4 separate regions of the Homo sapiens genome follow, and regions 1, 2 and 3 are each reported to be linked to region 4. Evidence: microRNA targets listed by miRTarBase, many of them from high-throughput screens and not tested one by one. Region 4 holds a microRNA gene; each other region holds the end of a gene's coding sequence.
What was found. Region 4 holds the annotated microRNA hsa-miR-4499 (AAGACUGAGAGGAGGGA, at 2,397-2,413, shown strand). A microRNA usually pairs through its seed, bases 2 to 8, with sites in the 3' UTR of a target mRNA and lowers its output. Matches are read on the target gene's strand: a 7mer-m8 pairs with bases 2 to 8, a 7mer-A1 pairs with bases 2 to 7 and ends in A, and an 8mer does both.

Region 1: the mRNA of PDCL is a reported target of hsa-miR-4499. Seed matches in the 3' UTR shown: 7mer-m8 at 1,003-1,009.
Region 2: miRTarBase lists STON2 as a target of hsa-miR-4499. The part of its 3' UTR that is shown has no 7-base or 8-base seed match.
Region 3: the mRNA of NUCKS1 is a reported target of hsa-miR-4499. Seed matches in the 3' UTR shown: 8mer at 2,041-2,048 and 7mer-m8 at 221-227.

The regions. Positions count from the first base shown.
Region 1 is chr9:122,817,474-122,820,667 of GRCh38, forward strand. PDCL (phosducin like) reads right to left here. Exons shown (of 4, transcript NM_005388.5): 4 at 624-3,163. The coding sequence ends at 2,612. Among named protein-coding and RNA genes, the nearest start is that of PDCL, 9.5 kb to the right of the region's middle.
Region 2 is chr14:81,265,645-81,268,838 of GRCh38, reverse strand. STON2 (stonin 2) reads left to right here. Exons shown (of 8, transcript NM_001394390.1): 8 at 342-3,194. The coding sequence ends at 425. Among named protein-coding and RNA genes, the nearest start is that of GTF2A1-AS1, 46 kb to the right of the region's middle.
Region 3 is chr1:205,715,326-205,718,519 of GRCh38, forward strand. It overlaps NUCKS1 (nuclear casein kinase and cyclin dependent kinase substrate 1), which reads right to left. Exons shown (of 7, transcript NM_022731.5): 7 at 1-3,154. The coding sequence ends at 2,955. Among named protein-coding and RNA genes, the nearest start is that of NUCKS1, 33 kb to the right of the region's middle.
Region 4 is chr13:20,432,796-20,436,242 of GRCh38, reverse strand. MIR4499 (microRNA 4499) reads left to right here and starts at 2,397; the gene lies at 2,397-2,465. The region is part of intron 4 of CRYL1 (crystallin lambda 1); the gene reads left to right.

The DNA.
Region 1 (3,194 bases), not on the chromosome of region 4:
ACTCTTTTTTTTAATTTTTTTTTTTTTTTTTTTTTTTGAGACAGGGTCTCTGTCGCCCAGGTTGGAGTGCAATCATGGTTCACTGCAGCCTTGACCTCCCAGGCTCAAGAGATCCTCCTGACTAAGCCTCCCAAGTAGCTGGGACTAGAGGTACAACACCGTGCCCAGCTAATTTTTTCTATTTTTTGTAGAGATGAGGCCTCACTATGTCTGCCTCAGCCTCCCAAAGTGCTGGAATTACAGGCATGAACCACCACACCCAGCCCTACTGTATTTTAGAACTTCTGTTCTTGAAAAGCAAAGTCAAGTTCCCTGTAAGTGCATAATATATTCTCATTTTCAATGAGAACAGAAGATGGTTTGTAAAAGCTATTTTTAAGTGTCCCTATTTGCCCAGTAATTCCTCTTCTAGAAATCTATGAGAATAATTCAAAATATAGCCCAAAACACAAAGGCATTAAGTGTTCAGCAAAACACTGAGAATCTAAATAACCAATATAAAGAGATTGGTTAGGCCGTGCAGCGTGCTCACGCCTGTAATCCCGGCACTTTAGGAGGCCGAGGCGGGCAGATTACCTGAGGTCAGGAGCTTGAGACCAGTCTGGCCAACATGGTGAAACCCCGTCTCTAGTAAAAATACAAAAATTAGCCAGGCGTGATGGCATGTGCCTGTAGTCCCAGCTACTCAGGAGGCTGAGGCAGGAGAACTGCTTGAACCCAGGAGGTGGAGGTTGCAGTGAGCCGAGATCACGCTATTGTACTCCAGCCTGGGTGACAGAGCGAGACTCCATCTCAAAGAAAACAAACAAAATAAATAAATAAAAATAAAGAGACTGGTTAAATAAATTATTATATATCCAAATGATGAAATATTATGAAGCCACTGAAAATTATTTATTTAGAATGTTTGAAACATCAAAGTATTTATGATACAACACTAAATAAGGAAGAGCACAGAACTAAATTCAGTAAGTACTCAATGTTTATAAAAATATTGAAAAAAGACTGAAAGGAAATAAGCTAGACTAACAATACTTCCCTGCTTCTAATAATTTTCAATACATTCCACCCTTTCTACTACAACGAGCTTTCTTAGTCAAAAAAAAAAAAAATGCACTCTGTTTGTTGACTAAATACTTTCAAGACTCTTTTACAGTTAGTCAATTCCTGAAAAGCCAGGAAAATCAAAATTGTGAATTTTAAGGCTAATATTTAATTCCAGATTACATTTCCCCTGACCCTAGAATATACATTTTTAAAGTTAAAAAAAGGAAAAAAACGCAAATGATAATTATTATAAATACATAGAAAAAAAGGCTATAAAAATGACTAGAAATATGACAAAAGGGATTAATTTTGGTTGGTGGAATTATATGGCTTTTAAGTCTTAACAGTGTTTATTACATTTTCTACAATGAACATCTATCACTTTTGTAATTTAAAAAAAGTATTTGCTATCTTTCTTTTTAAGAGACAACCATCAAGCAAATTATATCACATCTATACGATGGAATATTAATAGACATTTTTAAAAAGTTGTAGAATATTTAATAATATAAAAAAAGGTCTGATATATTATTAGCTGACCATACTATAGAACAGTATGTTCAGAATGATCCCATCGTTTTGTTTAAAAACAAACAAAATATCCATGTATACACAGAAAACACCTTGGCAGGAAACAGACCAAAATATTAATAGTGTTTTATTCTAGGTAGTAGGATTAGAGATTATTTTAATTTTCTTATTTTTGCTTCTGTTTTGGTCAGTTTTCCTCTACTGAATATGAATTACTTTTCCAATATGAAAAAAAAAAAAAGTTTTAAAAAAAATCTAGGTTAAACAAAAAGTTACCTTGTTAAACAAAAAGTTACCTTGTTAAACAAAAAAGAGACAAAGACAAGCAGGGGCATCTTACTGAAAGAACTTCCTTTACAAAGATTTCCAGCCCCACTCCAGCTCTAATGTTTAAATCCATAAACTACTTGTCTTCTAACATCACCAGGTCAGTAAGCATCAACCCTTCCTGCTGTTCCAGACTTAGTCATGCTGGAGGAAGACATGAAATCCAGCAGCAGAGGCCACCCCTCAGGACTGGGTGCGGTGGCTCACCCCTTTAAACAAGACCCTGGTGGGGAAAAAAAAAATCTAACCACCGTCTAAAGCTATGGAACTGATTACAAGTAAATATAATTTACAATCATTTGATTAAGAAAATGCACTATTTACGTTGCAAATAACACAATACCTACAGAATTATACTCTCAGACTTGGCAGAGACCTCTAAGATCATCTGAAGACAATTTCCAAGACCCTGTCTTTAGGATGCTTTGTAAATATTGACTGGAAACAATAACAGAGATGTCACACCACAGAATCTTAAGTAAACAGTTCAAAAGCCTGGCTTCCTGTTTATACAACTGTAAGTCACCTTATTGCTAGCTACAAGGTTATTCAGCATTCTGATTTAATCTAAGAATTTCTTTATTTTATGCATAATAAAAGGGACTACAAAGAACAGCTGAAAAGCCAGAAGACAAAGGAACAAAAATAAACAATGACGTGTATTCCAACCCAAACAATGAGAAATCTATGCAACTAGACTATCAGTTCAATCTATTTCCAGGTCGCTATCCTCACTGTGACACGTGGCAGAGTTACGCACAGATGTCAGCACCAAGACTTCCTTTTCTGGGAGTAATCCAAATTCCTGGAGAAAAGCTTCAAGGTCCACAGCAAAGAAATCATCCCCCAGCTGGTCAGTAACACGAACAAAATTGCCGATCAATTCACCCCCCTTATAGATCAGCAGGGCAGGAAGGGCATTCCTGGTGAACTGACTGCTGGCGCCAATAACTGAGCTCTTCACCTTGCAGAACTTGACAGCTGGGTACTCTGCGGCAAGGCAGATCATGCAACCATTCATGGCTTCGGTCCCTGGAATGCCATCCTCATAAATATGAACCATGATGACAATGCTTTTCTGTTCTTTATCAATCATGTCTAAAAACCCTTCTCCACTGGAGATCTCAAAAACCTGCTTGAATTGGGGCCCCTTGTGAAGCTGCTGCCGCATCTCTTCCATTCGCTGCTTCCGGTACTGCTGCAGAAACTCTTCATCATCTTGGTCCTCATTCATTATGGCAAACTCCTTCAGAGTCATCTGCAGGCGGACCAGCAAGTGAGCATAAATA
Region 2 (3,194 bases), not on the chromosome of region 4:
AAGATACGGTGGAAATATTCACAGAGAGAAGTACCTAAGTCTACTTAATAAGTCAAAAATAGCTTCACAGAAGGGGTGATCTTTGACCAAATGTACAAGGCAAAGAATAAGAATTTTCCTGGTGGACCATGAGGGAAAGGGAATTACAGACCAGTTAAAGAACATGTGCAAAGAGAGAGACATGATATACTCAGGGCCAGTAGCTCCAATGTGGCTAACGCCCAAAATGTTAGCAAAATTATAAGAAATTTCAAAGTACCTATGGAGTTTTGGTTTACTTATTTATTTGCATGCTTTTTCTCTTCTTTTTGATCTTTATCTCCAACTTCTATTCTTGGCAGGTGGAAATTGAGCAAAAAAAGAGTTTGAAGCCGGACTTTGAAGGAGATGAAATGGAAAATCCCAAGGAGTGTGGAGTGCAGTGACAAAGCCTTGCGGCAAGGAATCCTGATCCCAGAGTCATGATAGGGTGTCTTCCTGAGTCATGATAGGGTGTCTTCCTGAGTAGCTGAAGTTGCAGTCAATACCTGCTGTGGCCACTGCATGTTGGGAACAGTATACCAGATCTTCCTGTTTGCAGTTACTTGTATTTTACCAGGAAACCCTGAGAATGGTGGCTTTTGGAGAGGCTCTTTGATTCTGGTCATGCCTAAAGCACGAGGTTCACCTGACTGTTGGAGCTTACTGTATAATTAAGCCTCCTTGTCTTGTCTCTGCTTATCTCACAGCACTGGTATGTGGTTTGTTGTGACTGTTACAGTCAGGAAAAGAACCTCCCACATCAGTGTTAGCACGATTGCCTTCTGATGTTCATCTGTCACTCGCATAACTTTCTGGCAAAGGCAGTCTTGAGAAGTTAATTAAGAATCCATCTCTTTCACTCTGTCTAGAAAAGGTTCAGAAAAGGTGCAAAACAAATTTCCTCTTTGGGTCTTACTAGACCTTTTTGAGGTGTCTCCATTCTTTAACTGTTAAGCTTTCAAGACATTTCCCTCCTGGCTCTAGATCGTTTAGATTGGAACACTTTTTCCATCTCTCTAAGGTTTCAGTCACAGGATTTGCTATCCTGAGTCACAATAGACAATGGAAAAAGGCACAATAGGAGACTTTTTAATTTTGTGAATGGACCCACATTCTGCAAAATGGGTGTTGAGGGGAAGGCAAAATTAATCTTAGTTTTCTTCATTTTGGAGAAAAGAGACATTAAATATAAGATGATGTTCAGTTCAAGAGGTAGATTCAATCTCAGTGAATTCCCAAATTCACACTGAAAAATACAGTCCACTTCTGATTCCTGAAACAAATATACATAATACCTGAGGCATTTGTAAGGGGCATTTGGGAGTTCTTTTTATACCTCATGACCAATAGACAGTTGCATGTCCCTTTAACCCAACTTTATAGGAAATTTAAGCTGCAAAGATAATTTTTAAAGCTGTTTTAAAATTAAGCTTGAATGAGCTTTCCCCCAAAATTCAGAGTTTGATAATCACAGTATTGGATTGGATTGAAAAGGCATCTCTAGGGTAGAGACGTGGAAAAGCCATATTTTTCTAATGTTGGGAACATTATATTCTGATTCCAAGAGTCAGAACGCTCACTCCATCTTCTTTTTCTTCATCTGTTTCTGGGACAATTAATCTTCTTTTCCTTCATCCGTTCCTACTCACCTCTGCTTCTTATTTGTATCTTAGTGTTTTCTCCCATGAAGAATACAAGTCGGGGGACAGAAAGCACACTTCATTGGATTTGTAGATGATGCAGAAATGAAAAATATCTCCAGTTTTTGGCTGATGGATTCAAGATTAATGTATTCAATGAACAATCATTGGAGTCTAAATGTGTATTGACACTGGGATATAGAAATAGTTACAGTATTTTGAAATATCTGAACTAAGACTGAAAGTAAAATGATGATTGAATAGGCATTAATGAGAAACCCTATATTCTGGGTTTTTAAAATGCAACCCTCTAAGTACAGAGTGGAGTGTGTGTTTGTGGATGTGTGTGTTTGTGTGTGTTTATGTGTGTGGTGTTGATGGGAACGGTGTTAGGAAGACCTGGTTTCACGGTAGTTTATAGAGAAATATTTCCTTACAGAAATGGAGGTTCAATGTTGAATCAGAAATATATCATGGCTATTCACAAAGCTAATGTAGTCAGCTGGTGTTAATAAAAGCCTTACATGCTTTTATTAACCCTCCATCTAGTCCATATCTAAATGGAGGGTTGAGTTCAATTATGGGTATCATATTTTAAGAGAGACATTAATAAGTTGATTGTGTCCATAGGGAGGTGACCAGGGTTGTAAAGGGTCTGATGATGCAAGAACAAGGGAGTAGCTTCCCTGAAGGAACAGAAGGTATAGCTGGAAAGGGAGTGCAGACAAGGAGGGAATGATACAATAGCTGCCTAGAAATTTCTATTGAGCTATGAAAAGGAAGAGGAATTAGATTTATTCTGTGTAGCTTCAAAGGGCAAAAATAAGAACAAAGAGGAACTTTACAGGTGACAAATGTTTGCTTCAATATAAGGAAGAATTGTCTAATAAGAGTTGTTCTAAAGAGGAATAGACTCAAGTTAGTAAGATTTCCTGTTCCTGTGAATGCCCAACAGTTAAAATAACCACCTATCCCACGTGCTGTGAAAGGGAATCTTACATTGGATTTGGTCTATATGTCTACCAAGATTCCTTCTAAATATAGGTTTAGTCTCAATAGTAATAAGACTCTCTAACTTCATTTGTCTTTTTCTTCATAAGTGGTTTTTCATGCTCTTTGAAATACAGTGGAGTTCCTTTGAGGTTTTTGTCAAGGAATTTCAACGCATATCTCTTCCCCTGTTGTACTGAAGGCTTTTGAGATTAATTCCTCATAGAACATCTAAATGGATTGGAGAGTTGGCAAGGGAAATGAAGCTCATCCCAGCACCTTCCTTAGTCACTCACGCTTAGCACTCTGTCAAGATCTCTGCCTCATCTGCTAGCATAACATGTGGATTGCTTGTTGGAGCTTATTTCCCCGCCCCCCATGGTAAATTCTCATTTCCTGTGTACATGCACCTGGACTTTTTTGTTTTTTTTACCAAGAGTTGGGAAAAATCCCTTCTATGCTATCTATATTCTGCAAACAAATTATTATTATTATTATTATTGAGACAGAGTATTATTATTATTATTATTATTATTATTACTG
Region 3 (3,194 bases), not on the chromosome of region 4:
GAAGATGTCCACACTCTTTGCATTACCTCCCTAAAGGAGGAAACACCCATTAATTTTCCCTTATGGAATCAATATGGAGTGGAAATATGAAATGAGGAGATGTTTTAGAAAGCAGGACAAATCTACCTACCATTACTGGAATTAAAATGTATCCTCTGGGCCCACTCCATTGATTCCGATCTGAGGTGAGGAGGACTAAAAGCAGCAGCAGGTTACAGAAAGACTGAATAAGATGAAAGTATGCTACGTATGTCTAGCTGGGGAAGGGGGGATCTGGAAAAAAAATCTTAAGAACTAGAATGTAGTGTCAGTCAGCATAGCTGCTGAAATCTACGTTGTAGAGGTAAACCTAGCAGAGCTAATACAAACAAGCACCTTCAAAGTTAACGTCCCACTTCCTGAGCACTGCAAAATACGACAGTGAATGCTATTGCCATTTCACCATAGGCACACTAGAGAAAAAGAGGAAGGTTAGTCAAGGATGGTGCCAATGGCCAGTCAGTATCGGCTTACAGCTTGTAATGCGTCCTGACATCACTATCAAGCCTGACTATTGAGCACCTGTATCCAGTTGAGTCACCACCACTGTCCTCCTATTTGCATGCATGATTTGAGGGGAAGACTAGAGTGTTTTAAATCATCAATAAAAAGTGGAGAAAACAAAGGTTATTCAGAGCCTGTCTCACTTGGGGACACAGATCCTTCTGTCCAGTCTATCAGAAATATAGAATACATTTTTCAATCTAATGAATTAATTTTAAAAGGGACCCTAAACAAGAAGCCCAATCAAATGCACACAAGTAATCTAGAAGACATGATTACCTCTAAAATATGTGCATATATCACAGAGATGTTAGTGCAGATTAATATATTAAAGAGACTGTTAAACAACTGAGGCTGAAGTTTTAAAAGAGCCCTCCCCCCAAATCTTCACGAAACATAACCTAAGAAAAGCCCAAATGTTACTAGGAATGTAAGACTTAAAATTATAAACTCCTAAAAAATAGAAGTGCATGGTGGAAACACTGATAGGTCTTTTACTATATGAACACAAACTTCTTTGTTAAAAATGGATACCTGAACAAACCCATTTAGGCAAATAGATTAATCTTTAACACCCTCATTACAAAGTTCACACCTCTGAATTTAACCGTCATGAAAGAGAATGATCCAACTGCTATTTATGTTCAAGTCCTGTATTTTTGGCCATGTAACTGAAAACTCCTTATTCATTCTTTAACACACAGTGCAATAGTGAAATGACTCTGCCACTGTGTGTTTTTTAAAAAAAGATCAGAGTAAGCATGTTCCTAGTAAACCACAAAGTAGGATATTGAGGAAGCAAATCTAGATTAAAAGGCAGGAAAAAAAGGCAGAAGTTTAAATTTCACTAATTTTTCAATTTATTAGCATACCAGGACCCTTTAAACCTTGTTCCCATTAGCGCCTGGTATTAGATGTGAAGGATCAAACCTACGGATCTATCTCCTGACTGCTTTTATAAGGCGTGTAAAAGTCGGTTTTCAACTGCACACAGGCCTCCTAAAATGCCTTGTTTCTCTAGTCCCTCCTGCTTTAAGCAGCATGAGCAGTAAAGCAGGGGTTGGACCAAATAAAAAGACAAGAGCTAACTGAATTGTATGGGAGCAGCATTTAACATATTCCTAGTCAAGGACAGGATGGGAAGTAAGTGAAGAATAGGGCCAGGAAAATAGTGTCCTATAGCAGAGGTGGTTGGCACTCGGGGTAGGGTGTGCAGTGGTGCTCTACGAAGCAGCAGGATCACAGGGATGTACTTCTTATCACATTTCTATGAAGAAATGGGAAGATCGGGATATGAAAAAGAAAATGTTCTATCCCCAAATAAAAGCAGAGCATGGTTAATGGGACCTGAATGCACATTTATAGCATAAAAGAATGTCAATTCTATTTCATAAAGGAAAAATCTCAACTCTTTGTGACTGAGTTTCACATTAACTGGAACTTTATTTGCTTAAAACCTAAACATTGTCAGTTTGAAAAGAAATCCACTGTGACCTGTAGACTGATCTTGTTGATTAAATTCTAGGGTTTTTTTTTTTTTGGATTCTTGGTAAAATTTTATCCAAAAAACAGGATACATATATATTTAGAGAAGGAAATATGAAATCAAGAGTTTTGGCAGCCCCTGCTTTTTTTTTTTTTTTAGCTCCCTAAAGACTGTAGCAGGATAAAAGGATCACTGGCTCCGAGTCTCTTTGAGATAACAAGTGATGAAATAAAAAAGAAAGCCCATACCCTCAAATAAGGTCAGGTAACCCCATTGCCCACCCTCCCTACAAGGTAAAAAATGAGTACTTTTAGTAACAGTTCAGAATTCATCTTTATCTCCTACCTGCCTCATCGGTGGAAGTTTAAAGTCATGATTTTTTTTAGACATTGATACTTGTGTCTATAGACAAATAAACTCATATTAGATGACAATTGATTTTTTAAAAGTCCAGGTAGAGAAAGGAGCAATCATTTTGAACTAAAATCTTTCTATGTTTTTTGATTACTATTCAACTTGCTATTTTTTAGCAAAAAGCGAAGTTTCAATAGTGTTCATCTCAAATCTTATTGCTTTACAACCGTGGTACACCTTTCATTAAAAATAAAAAGATGAAGCAGTCAATCCAGTGATTAATTTGACATGGCTTTCATTGGGAAAGGGGAGGGCTGGCAAAGAGACCAATAGACAAAAAGGTAACTTAAACACTTACACATACAATGGTTTGCTTTAAAAAAAAAAAAAAAAAAAGAGAGAGAGAGAGAAATGTTACTTTCAACAAATGGAAAAAAGCACTGAAAGCCCATGAGTCAAGCCATAGCCAAAACCATGTTCTATCTTAAGTAGGTTCTTTTTTTTCCTCCCTCTTTTTTCTTTTTTTTTCTTTTTTTTTTTAATAAAATCTCTCCCCAGACCATCATCACTTTTAATCCTCCCCAGAAGGGGCTTCATCTTCAGACCCTTCATCCCCAGATTTCTCGGGTGGGGGGCTTGTAGATGTTTTCTTTTCTGGCGGGCTTTCCGGTTCCTCATCTTCTTCTTTGGGAGAAGGAGTCTTTTCCTTTGATGCCTTTGAAGCTGTGGGGCGACCCACTTTCCCTTTGCCTTTCACTGGACTTGGCGTCACTGAAAATAGAAAAATAATTTGGGGAAGGGAAGAGAAAAA
Region 4 (3,447 bases):
CCAAGTACTGTGCTGTATGGACAGGCCTGCTTGGGAAGGGGGCCGCGGCTGGCAGACTGGGGCGTGCGGTGGGCGTTGGGGGAGAGGCCACCAGTTAGCCCGCTCCCCCGCCCCTTGCTTGTGCGTGGCCTTTTCGAACTCACCTCACGTCTCACACCGAAGTCATCTGCCCTGGTATTGGTGGTAAATATTGGATGTATGGGCTTGCTGTCTGCAAAGCGCCCGTGCTCTGTGCGTCTCTTTGCACATCTGCACGGCCCTGCGGCCGCTCCGAGCTGCCTTTGAGCCCTCCCTGCGAGCGCGCCGCCGAGAGGATGGGCTACCCATGAAGCATCGAACACCGAGGGCTGGCAAGAGGCCCCAGCCCGGCTGCCTCCCGCGAGGGCGCTGTCGGCCCTGTGGGCCTCGCCGTTTTGGTTGCTCCCGGAGCGGGGGTGAAGGGAGTCTCTGTGGGCAGCCGCGCTGTCGGCGCGGTCACATGGGGCCCGGGCGGCGGGGAAGAATGCGTCCCTTGTGCTCCGCCGGCCTGCGCAGGCCCAGGCCCCTGCGCTGCGCTGCCGTTGTATCTGTCGAACCCTTTCGGGGGCGTGTTTCCGAGTCCACCTCGCACACTCCCACATGGAAGGTTTGGGGCGGGGGAGCTGCCTCCTCTCCTGTCTCGCCTCCTCTCCTCCCCTCTACTGTGGTAAATTCAAGGGGCACCCGACCTTATTGACAAGATTGACCTCTTGGGCCAGAGGCTGAGGGCTGTGGTTAGGGAGACTGTTTCCCAGCCGGGAGACCTCGAAGGTCCTTTTGCGGCGGCTTCCGTAGGTGGACACGGAGGTGTGGATGGAAGTCGGTGTGAATGGAAGTCTGTTTTGGGGGGCTGCGTGGGGCCCAGTCGCTGGCCCCTGCGTCCTAGTCAGCCGTGTGCCTTGTACAGTGGGCGCTGGGCAGCCCTTCAAGATTTTTCGTTGGAGAAGGCATGATCAAAGTCCTGTTTTTTACTTTTAAAATGTATAATTGTGGTAAAATATACATAACAAAATCTACCGTCTTAACTATTTGTAAGTGTGCAGTTTGGAGGCATTAAGGACATTCTCACTGGTGTGCAGCCACCACCACCAACAATCCATGGAACTTTCTCCTCTTATAAGACTGAACCTCCTACCCATGAAACACTAACTTTCCACAGCTCCACCCCAGCCGCGGCACCTGAACCTAGCTTTCTGCTGCTGCTGTGGATTTGATAGGCTCCCGCTACAACACGGATTGCTCTGGGAGGATGAGATAGAGGGGCTGAGACCCCAGCAGGAGTCCCATGAAGGGAGTGCAGAATATATATGGAAACGGGGGCCCTGAGCTGAGGGTGGCAGTGGCAATGATTTTTTTGAGAGAAGAGTAAAGAGAAGTAACAGGACTTCAGTAACTGATGGTGTGTCCGGAGTTGGTCTTGGTGGGTTGTGGTCTTGCTGACTTCGTGAACCACAGACTTGGTGGTGATTGTTAACAGCTCTTAAGGATAGCACGGACCCAAAGAGTAAGTGGTAGCAAGGTTTATTGTGAAGAGCAAAAGGACAAAGCTTCCACAGCAGGGAAAGACAGCGGAGTGGGTTAACGCTGCAGGTGGGGGTGTAGGGGTGTGGGTGGGGGGGCGCGTGTGGGTGTGGGTGGGCGGTAGGGGTGGGTGGGGGGAGTGACCAGCTTTTTTTCCCTAATTGGCCCCTCCCCTGTTCCATTTCTGTCCTATCAGAGTTCCCTTTTTTCAATCCTTCCCCCGATTAGCTACTTTTAGAATCCTGCTGATTGGTGCATTTTACAGAGCGCTGATTGGTGCGTTTTGCAGAGTGCTGATTGGTGCGTTTTACAGAGCCCCGATTGATGTGTTTTACAGAGCACTGATTGGTGCGTTTTACAGAGTGCTGATTGGTGTATTTTACAATCCTCTTGTAAGACAGGAAAGTTCCTGATTGGTGCATTTTACAATCCTTTTGTAAGACAGAAAAGCTCCCCAAGTTCACACTTGACCCAGGGAGTCCAGCTGGCCTCACCTCTCAATGGAAAGTGAGAGGGGCTAGGGAGAGGCAGGGGCCAGGAACATTTCTCCTGGTACTGACTTGGGTGTGGGGATGTGACACATTCTCACTGAGATCAGGAGCCTGCCAGGGTTGGGGACCATGGGGATAACCCACATGAGACAAGTCTGTGCTGGGGTGTGCCCAAGGGAAGGCGTCCAGCACTCAGTTGCAGATGTGGGCCAGGGTGAGGCTGGGATCTGTGTGAGACATGCAGGTGTATTCTGTGTCCTCAAGTCTTGGTGGTGGTGACACCAGGGAGTGGGCACAGATGGGCCACTGTGGCAGACTGGGGGTCACCATCACTCAGTGAAAGTGTGAGCAGGAAAAATCGCAGAGAAGACTGAGAGGAGGGAACTGGTGAGTTGTACATAGAAATGCTTTCTAACTCCTTGTCTCAGTCTGTTTTTGCTACCAGTGAGGCTTACAATGTTTGAAAGACCCCAATCCCAGCATGCCTGCTTTATATAAAATAAGGTAAAATTCATCTGAGAAAGACACACTTCCAGTTCTTCTAATCTTCATTTTTCAAAAGGTCAGAGGTTAAGCGTTTCTATAAGAATTCAGTAGGTGACAGGTGTTTAACCGAGGCATCGATTTACCATCTGTCTATTTGGAAACAGGAGCCGTCTTTTCTTGATTCCTGAGAGGGCAGAGCAGGTGCCCAGGATGGCCCTTATTTCTCCTTTCCTCTTCTGTGGGAGTCATCTTTAAATGGAAGCTTCTGCTCATGGAAGCATCACTTAGCAAATGTGACATTCTACCTATCACCCATGTAGTGGAGGAAAACCCATTGAAAAGCATCATTTCTGTTTGCTGTGGTATACTTGGCTCAGTGCTCAGGCCAGTCAGGTTCTACCAGGCACTGTTTTCTTTGGACATTTGATAACTCTCTGTGAGGAATCTCTAAGAACAGTTTCTCAAAGTAAACCAAGAACACCAGAGTTGAACAGTGAAGTCCAGGGTCCTCCCTTGGGGCATGCTCACCTGGACAATGCCTTCCTGTGTTGGGCTCGTCGGGGTGCTGGGGCTGCTGAGGTGTGTTGATGCCTGTTGATTTCTAGAGCAGGAAGGTGACATTAGACTGGAAGAGGCAGACACTTAAGGTACAATATGGAGGAATTAAGGAAATACCAGGTTTTGGGAAGACACTGCTAATAATTTATTTTTGAGATGATCTGGCACTGTCACCTAGGCTGGAGTACAATGGCACAATCATGGCTCACTGCAGCCTCCACTTCCTGGGCTTAAATGATTCTCCCACTTCAGCCTTCCAAGTAGCTGGGACTACAGGTACACAACACCACACCTAGCTAATTTTTTTATTTTTTGTAGAAACAGGGTCTCGCTGTGTTGCCTAGGCTGGTCTTGAACTCCTGGGCTCAAGTGA